2 linked regions of the Homo sapiens genome follow. The protein of the gene in region 1 interacts with the protein of each later gene in a pairwise test. Each region holds a gene or a part of one and is shown on either strand. Other genes may lie near its edges.

The links.
Region 2: the proteins of PPP1R1B (region 1) and TFCP2 interact in binary tests that used the Homo sapiens proteins (3 or more experiments, as listed by UniProt).

The regions. Positions count from the first base shown.
Region 1 is NC_000017.11:39,625,566-39,629,856, reverse strand, and holds the start of PPP1R1B (protein phosphatase 1 regulatory subunit 1B), read right to left. Parts: upstream 2,906-4,291; 5' UTR 2,465-2,905; coding exon 2,384-2,464; intron 1,355-2,383; exon of another isoform or gene 1,151-1,354; intron 688-1,150; coding exon 627-687; intron 318-626; coding exon 295-317; intron 1-294. UniProt on the Homo sapiens protein: Inhibitor of protein-phosphatase 1.
Region 2 is NC_000012.12:51,106,852-51,110,663, forward strand, and holds part of TFCP2 (alpha-globin transcription factor CP2), read right to left. Parts: intron 2,423-3,812; coding exon 2,270-2,422; intron 496-2,269; coding exon 385-495; intron 1-384.

The sequences.
Region 1 (4,291 bases):
GTCCTGCACCTAGGCTGAGCCTCCCCACCCTGTGGCTTTAGGGGGGGCCCCCCATAAGCCATGGCCTGGTTCAGGGCAGGACTCTAGGTCCAGGAGGTTCCACCCTGAGTCTGAGCAGAGGAGGATCTGCTGGTGGCACCCTGGCATGAGGCACTCTCAGAGGACTGCCCATTGATATGCTAATGTGTCCTCTTGGGTGGCACCCCATACTGGTTGGTTGTCACTGCAGGCACCCGTCCACCCCACCCCAAGGGGCCCAGGCATCCCTCCTTCCAGCTGCCCCAGGAAACTCACCTGGTGGGGGGAGGCTTCCTCCTCTGAGGAAGGCCACCAAAGCCAACCGAACCAGAACCAAGCGAGGAGGAAAAGAGAAGAGGGAGAGAGAGAAAGAATCCGAGTTATTTTCCCCAGGGTCTCAATCTCTGGGGACAGGGAAAGTGTGCCCTCTCCCTCCTGCGGCTGGGAGGTGTCATGTCAATAAATAAAGCCAATAGAGTTGGGTTCCCAGACCTTATCCACTCCCCAGTCTCCAGCTTTGACTCCTGTTCATGGGACTTTGGCAGGGCCCCTAGGAAGGCATCAGAGCTAGGGTGGGGCCAGGGCTAAGTGGGCAGGGAGGGGCCTACCTGGTGAGGAGTGCTCTGAGAGCCGGAACAGCATGGCAGGCGTTGGTCTCCTGCGCCGGATCTAAGGAGATGGAGGGAGGGGTGACTGGATGGACACCTGCAGCCCTCCCCCACCCCCAGGCAGCAGGGAACAAACAGTGCTTTGGAGTCCCCAGGGAACCTTTGAATCAAAGTCTGTCAGAGCCAAAAGGAACTCTGTAGCTCACCTAACCCCCTCATTTTACAGAGGTGAAAAAGCAGGGCTCAGAGAGATTTGGCAATGTGCTTAAGGCCACACAGCACAACAAGTCCAAAGGACGAGAAAAACCCCAGTCACTGACTCCCAGCCCATGCCTGTCCCACTCCATGGCTACTCCAGAACAGACATCTCCCTTCCTATCTTCTCCCACCAAGGCCCTTCCTCTCTCCAGTTTCTGAAAACATCAGACCTCGGAAGCCAAAGCTGGCTACAGCTCCAGCTGCCACGGCTGGGCCCTCTGGGGAAGATGCCCCACGGGCCATGGCACCCATGTGGCCCTGCCCACCTAAGATCAGCTCAAGGGCTTCAAACAAGCTGGATCCAGCTTTTCAGAAGGAGACTGAGCCAGCGCACTGCAGGCACCCCCCACCTCCAGCTGAGGCTCAGGGACCCAAAGGGGCCTGGGGGACCTCTCTGGGGGCCTTGGTTTGGGCTTCTTTTCCAGTCTCTGTAAGGCTGCAGAACTCTTCACCCAGTCCTTGTGAGAAATGAAAAGTTGCCCTCCTTGCTACGTGAGCCAAGCAGCAACTGACCGCCCCCCTCCCCGCCCCGCCCCTCAGCTTGGCAATCAGACCAACTGTCAGTTAATTAGGTCCCTGTTGAGCTCCAGGGAAATGCACAAAGAGAACCAGGTGAGTTAAGCTGAAACTGCCACCTCCCCAGCCAAGCTCCCCATGACACCCTCATGACCCAAAGCTGCTTAGGCCCAGGACTGTACCCCCTGCCCTCTATCTCCCCCCATAATGACTTGGCCCCCTCATCACTGCTCAGTGGGGAGCCAGCTGCATCTCAGCTCAGCAACAAGTGACCCCTGCTCCACTAGGGATGGGAAGTGGAGCTCTCTGTCACAGCACCCGCCAGCCTTTGGAAGCCCCTCAACCCCCAAGAAGGCCCTCAGGAGGACTCAGTAGTCTGTGGGAAGAGGTCTGGCTTTGTGATGACTCCCCACCTCTCCCTCCTTGGGGTTGGGGCTCTGGGGCCTGACAGCAGGAGGCCAGAGCCAGGTTCTGGAGACCCCAGCCCAGGCACACACGCGGGATTAGAGAGGGGCAGGGTAGTGGATTCACCCGGTGGCAGCCTCATACTCCTGCCCTGGGTGACAAGGTCAGTGTCCACCGCTGCTCACATCTGACCAGCTCTGGGACAGAGCCAGGCGGAGCGGTCCCGGTGGTAGCCTAGGAGACTGACTACCCTTTGGGGACTGTGCTGGGACCAAAGGACGCCCCCACCCCACTCCTGGGCGGTCTGGAATCGGCCTGTCCCCCCACCCCCGCACCCCCAGCCTCACTGCCAGGAACTCTCTTGCCCCGGGATCAGGACCAAAGCCGCGGGGAAAAGTTGCACGAGTCTCCAGCTAACTTCACACGCGGCCCCGCGCCCCGTCCTGACCGAGGCAGAGCCCGGCTCTCCTTGCGCCCCCACCCCCAGGCCAGTCCGGCCGGGGCAGCGCCTTGGGAGGGCGAAGAAGCCCCGCGGGGTGTGTCGGGTACGCTGCCGGGGTGGGGCACGGGCCCCTTACCATCTCCACCTGGCGGGGGTCGAGCTGGCTAGGGGGCGCGGGCACCGAGAACTGGATCTTCTTGCGGTCCTTGGGGTCCATGGCGCGCGGGGTGGGCGGTGGGGCTGGGGTGCGCGACTCGGGGTCCCGGCGGCGGTCTGTGCTGGGCTCCCCCGCGCAGGCGGCGGGCTGTGCGGCGAGAGGAGGAGGAGGGCTGTTCGCGCACGGATAAAAATACCGTGCCCGCCGAGGGGAGGGCGCGGGAGCGGGAGGAGGGTCGGCGCCCGGGCTGGGCGCGCCCCCAGGCTCTCGGGACTCGGGGCTCGCCCCCCGCGCTCGCTGAGCCAGGTCTGTGCCTCGCTCCCTCGCGCTCCCCGGCCTGGGTGTCTCTGCGTCTCGGTGTCTCTCCCCTCCTGAGTGTCTCTGCGTCTCGGTGTCTCTCCCCTCCTGAGTGTCTCTGCGTGTCTCCTCTCTCTGCCTCTCCCGTCCTTCTCCACCTCCCTCCCTCAGCCTCTCCTCCTCTCCGCGTGTGTCTCTGCCTCTGCCGGGCTCACCCTCCGGTCCCAGCTTTGGGGTCCCCAGCCCGTCCCCTCCGCCTGGGACTGGCGCCCGGGTGCTCGGAGGGAGGGTTTAGGGGAAACTGGCCAATGAGCATGGAGAATCGTGTTCTCCTGGGGCTGGGAGGAGGGTGGGAGTTAGAGCCAAGGCCTGGGGAGCCAGCTGGGGGGCCCCCTGCGGTCTCCCCAGAACTTGAAGCTGCATTATTGATGGAGTCCAGCAGAGAGGATAAAGGGGGAGGGAGGGGGAGAGGGGCAGCGGGGAGGCAGGACTCTGGCTTTAACCCCTTCGTGGTCCTGGTACTGGGAGTTTCAGAGAGGCCTGCGAGGTCGTGGGGAGAGTACCAGCCTGTCACGCTGTGAATGGGGGTGTCCTGGAAAGGGAGCGAGTGTGACCGAGTTGTGTGTGGGAGGACACGTGTCAGTCATCGTGGCAGGGAGAGTGTGCAGGGGTGTGCCGGGGCCCTGTGGTGCCCATAGCCAGGGAGTGTGTTTTGGGGGGTCCGGTGTGGTGTGAGTGTGTCTGTGTAAGTGTGTCAGAGTGTCAAAGATGCAGGTGTGAGTGGCAGGGTGTGGGAGGACTGCGTGTGTGCGGGGGAGGGTGTGGGTGTGGGGGAGGATGTCAGAGGCTGTCAAGGTGATGGGCAGGCGTGTGCCAGCTTGCAGGGGGTGGGGGACTGTATCCACAGCTCCGCTGTGCAGTTGCTGGGGTATGAGGTTGTGGATGTGTGAGCGCTCCTGTGAGGGAGAAGGGGAATGTGCCCTGCCATGATGTACTGTAGATTCACGTGGCTCCTGTCTTTCCTCTCCGGATCTAATGGGGTGGGGAGGACAGGGCCGGCCCAGAGTTGGGGTGGGTTTGGGGGCTGCCTGTACACGTGCCATCACGTGCATGAATTTGGTGCATTCAGAAGCAGGGTTGGGGGAGACAGGTGTGAGCCTCTCTCTCTCCAGAGGTATTTGTGTGTGTCTCTGGAGCGGGAGCGGGAGGAGCTGGCCCTGTGGGTGGAATGTCCCTGTCTATTTGGTCTATTTGTCCGGGCCTTGGGTGCCTTTGCAGGAGCTGCTGTTTCCCTCCTTGGAGCTGTGCAGAGGGTCTGAATGCTTCTGTCTAGCACTGAGAGGGTGTGTGTAGACGTGTACATGCATGTTTTCCTGGGGCTCTGTTTGTGTTGGCGTCCTCTCTCCTGGTCACTCTCAGGCCTGAAACCCCCAATCCTCCTGCAGCTTTTCCACTCCCAGCCCCAGCATCTGGGTCCTGGGTGGAGTGAAAGGCCAGAGGAATCTTCTGGAATTGGGGTCAGGGCCCACTCTGGGGGTGAGGGAAAGGGTGGCAGGAGGTCCAGAGTGTTGCTCATAGGAGTGGGATGTC
Region 2 (3,812 bases), on another chromosome or scaffold:
GTTGGTTATAAGTGGGTTCCAGAACCAAAGGCAGCACACAGCTCTTCCTAAAATTGAAGGTGGTTTATGCCCAAGATGAAACTGAATTCTATTTGGGCAAGAGATGTGCTTATGTATACAAAGCAAAGAACACCACAATAGCTCCTGCAGCAAACCAAACCAAACCAGAGTAATTTGGGGAAAGATAACTTGGACACAGAGACAGTGGCATGGTTCGTGCCAAATTCTAAAGCAATCTTCCTGTTAAGGCCGCTGGACACAGAATCCATGTGATACTGTGTCCCTCAAGGCTTAGGAGAAGTAAATTCTGACCAGTTTGGAAGTGATGAATTTTTAAGATTAAAAATTATGAACTGAAATTGTCACCAAAAGAAATCTTTTTACCTCTGTGAGTATGGTTGTCTCATAGGAAGGCTGATATTTCTCCTTTTCATGAGGTGTTCGTTTCTCCATTTTTTCCCTATCCGTTTTTTGCTTTCTGTCTGCACCTTTGGGCTGAAATGAGAAATATTTTGTTTTAAATTCAGGTACTCACCTTTTAACCCAAAATATTGCTTCCAAAAACTTAAATATTCATGTATGAAACAAAATTGTATGTGCAGTGATGTAAAGGCAAGACACATCACTTTAAGTTTGAAAATAGGAAATTTAAATGTTTATATTCGATGGAGTTGAAAAGAATCAGATCTATAGCTACTGACATGGAAAGATCTCTAAAGCACATAGTTCACTGAAAAAAATCAAGTCTCAAAACATTTCTTTCTTTTTTTTTTGAGACGGAGTCTCATCCTGTCACACAAGCTGGAATGCGGTGGCGAGATCTTGGCTCACTGCAACCTCCGCCTCCAGGGTTCAAATTATTCTCCTGCCTCAGCCTCCCCAGTAGCTGGGACTACAGGCGTCCGCCACCACACCCAGCTAATTTTTTATCTTTAGTAGAGACGGGGTTTCACCATTTTGGTCAGGCTGGTCTTAAACTCCTGACCTTGTGATCCGCCCACCTCGGCCTCCCAAAGTGCTGGGATTACAGGCATGAGCCACCGTGCCTAGCCTCAAAACATTTCAAATAGTATAATCCCATTTATGTGTCAAAGAAAATATGTATATAGCTATGTATGTGTGTGTATAAAAGCATAGGAAGGAACTAGAAGAGCTGGGCGCAGTGGCTCATGCCTGTAATCCCAGCACTTTGGGAGGCCGAGGCAGGCGGATTGCCTGAGGTCAGGAGTTCGAGACCAGCCTGGCCAACATGGCGAAACCCTGTCTCTACTAAAAATACAAAAAATTAGCTGGGCATGGTGGTGTGTGCCTGTAGTCCTAGGTGCTGGGGAGGCTGAGGCGTGAGAACAGCTTGAACCCAGGAGACGGAGGTTGCAGTGAGCTGGCACTGCACCACTGCATTCCAGCCTGGGTGACAGAGTGAAACTCCGACTCAAAAAAAAAAAAGAAGAGGGAAGTAGAAGAACACATACGAAATTATGAAATTATGACAGTGGTTTCCTCTGGGAAGAGGTTGTGGAGGGGGTCAGTGTAAGAGTAGTAAAGGGAGAATTTCAGTGTTGCTATGAATACCTCTGTATTATTCAATCTCTTACAATGAGAACATATTTATTCATGTGATAAAAATAAACAGGACCCTGGCTGGGGCACAGTGGCTTACACCTGTAATCCCAGTACTTTGGGAGGCCAAGGAGGGCAGATAACTTAAGCCCGGGAGTTCAAGGCCAGCCTGGGCAACATGGCAAGACCCCCTCTCTATAAAAAATACAAAAATTAGCCCGGTGTGGTGGCACATGCCTGTAGTCCCACTTACTGGGGAAGCTGAGGCAGGAAGATCAATTGAGCCCAGGAGGTTAAACTATGATTGCGTCACTGCACTCCAGCCTGGGTGACAAAATGAAACCCAGTCTCAAAAATAAATAAATAAATAAATAAGACCAAATAAGAAAAGATCAAGTATGAAAATAACCATAACTAGTCAATTTTTGTGAGCTTTACAAGAGCTTGTAACTTCAATAGGCTTTAAGAGCTTTCAATGAGAATCCATGTTCTTGCCTCTAGCCCTCTTTTCCAAGTTCCTATTATCCTACGACCATGTAAATTTCTTTACCAGGCATCTTGGTAATTATTTCAATGACTCTAGCTTAGACTTTTTGCGTGTGTGTGAGTTTTCAAAAAAAGACAAGTTGATTTTCTGACTTGGTAACTAATGTTAAAATAGAATGATAAGGTAAAAGAATCCAAGGGCCAGCACATTGCCCAGGAATACCTTGAAAACTTTGATCTGGCAGCTGGCCGAGTGTAAGTGCTCAGTATATTCCCCGTTTTCATTCTCCTTGAAGGTATCTATTTGTACTCGGAATGGCACCCCCTTTTCTCCACCATGTTTCCTCATAGTGAACTCTGTGCTAATACAGTGCACCTGAAAAGAATACAACAGCAAGGCTTCAGTACCGCTAGCTAGCCAAACCAGTTGGCAGTATTTTTTTAGCAACTATTAACAGCAAAACCTTTACCAGGCATTATGAATACCTACAAAAAACACTTTTCCTCTTTTTGATCTTGAAGAACTTACAATCTGATAGAGGAAATAGAAAAATGCTTTACAAATGCAAACAAAATAAAAGTACAGATCTAATGCTAACAAAAGCTACTGTGAGGAACTAAATTCATTAACTGCTTCAAAGAACACAGAGCTAGCAAAAGAGAAATGATTTATGTTAGTTAAAGTTTCCTCAATTTTAAGGAAGATTGTAGAAAGAGGAGTCACTACCCAGTCTGGGAACATAGTAAATATGAAAGTTCACAGCAATAGTGGAGAAAAAGGTTTGCTTGGCTACTGCATAAAGTCTAAGATTGGTGAATTTTTTTTTTTTTTTTTTTTGAGACTAAGTTTTGCTCTTGTCACCCAGGCTGGAATGCAATGGCACAATCTCGGCTCACCGCAACCTCCACCTCCCCGGTTCAAGCAATTCTCCTGCCTCAGCCTCCCAAATAGCTGGGATTACAGGCACACACCACCACGCCCTGCTAATTTTTGCATTTTTAGTAGAGACAGGTTTTCGCCATGTTGGCCAGGCTGGTCTCGAACTCCTGACCTCAGGTGATCTGCCTGCCTCGGCCTCCCAAAGTGCTGGGATTACAGGTGTGAGCCACGGCACCCAGCCTGGTGAATCTTAATAGAAGAACCTTGTCTGACTGACTACTCCACAAGATTATAGCTGAAAGTCTTAAAATCATATATATAAAGTGTTTACTTAACATAGTGACTATTTCATGTGAAGTATTAATAAACTAGTGGTTACTATAATTACTACAAATAAGGATTTTCAAGGACTCTACCCAAAGAACATAATCAGATACGCAAATCAAATTTTAAGTATAAATATGTTCAAAATAACATCACAGATAATAGTAAAAAATCAGGCCAATCAAGGCCGGGCATGGTGGCTCACACCTATAATCCCAGCACTTTGGGAGGCCAAGGTGGGTGGGTCACCTGAGGTCAGGAGTTCAAGACCAGCCTGGCTAGCATGGCGAAATCCCACCTCTACCAAAAATACAAAAATTAGCCAGGCATGGTGACATGCGCCTCTAGTCCCAGCTACTGGTGAGGCTGAGGCAAGAGAATCGCTTGAACTGGGAGGCAGAGGTTGTAGTGAGCCGAGATTGCACCACTCCACTCCAGATTGGGAGACAAAGCCTAGACACTGTCCCCCCCCAAAAAAATTATGCCAATCTAACTGCCAAATAATTGTTATGTAAATTATGGTACAACCAAGAAATGAAATATTATGCAGCCATTACCAAGC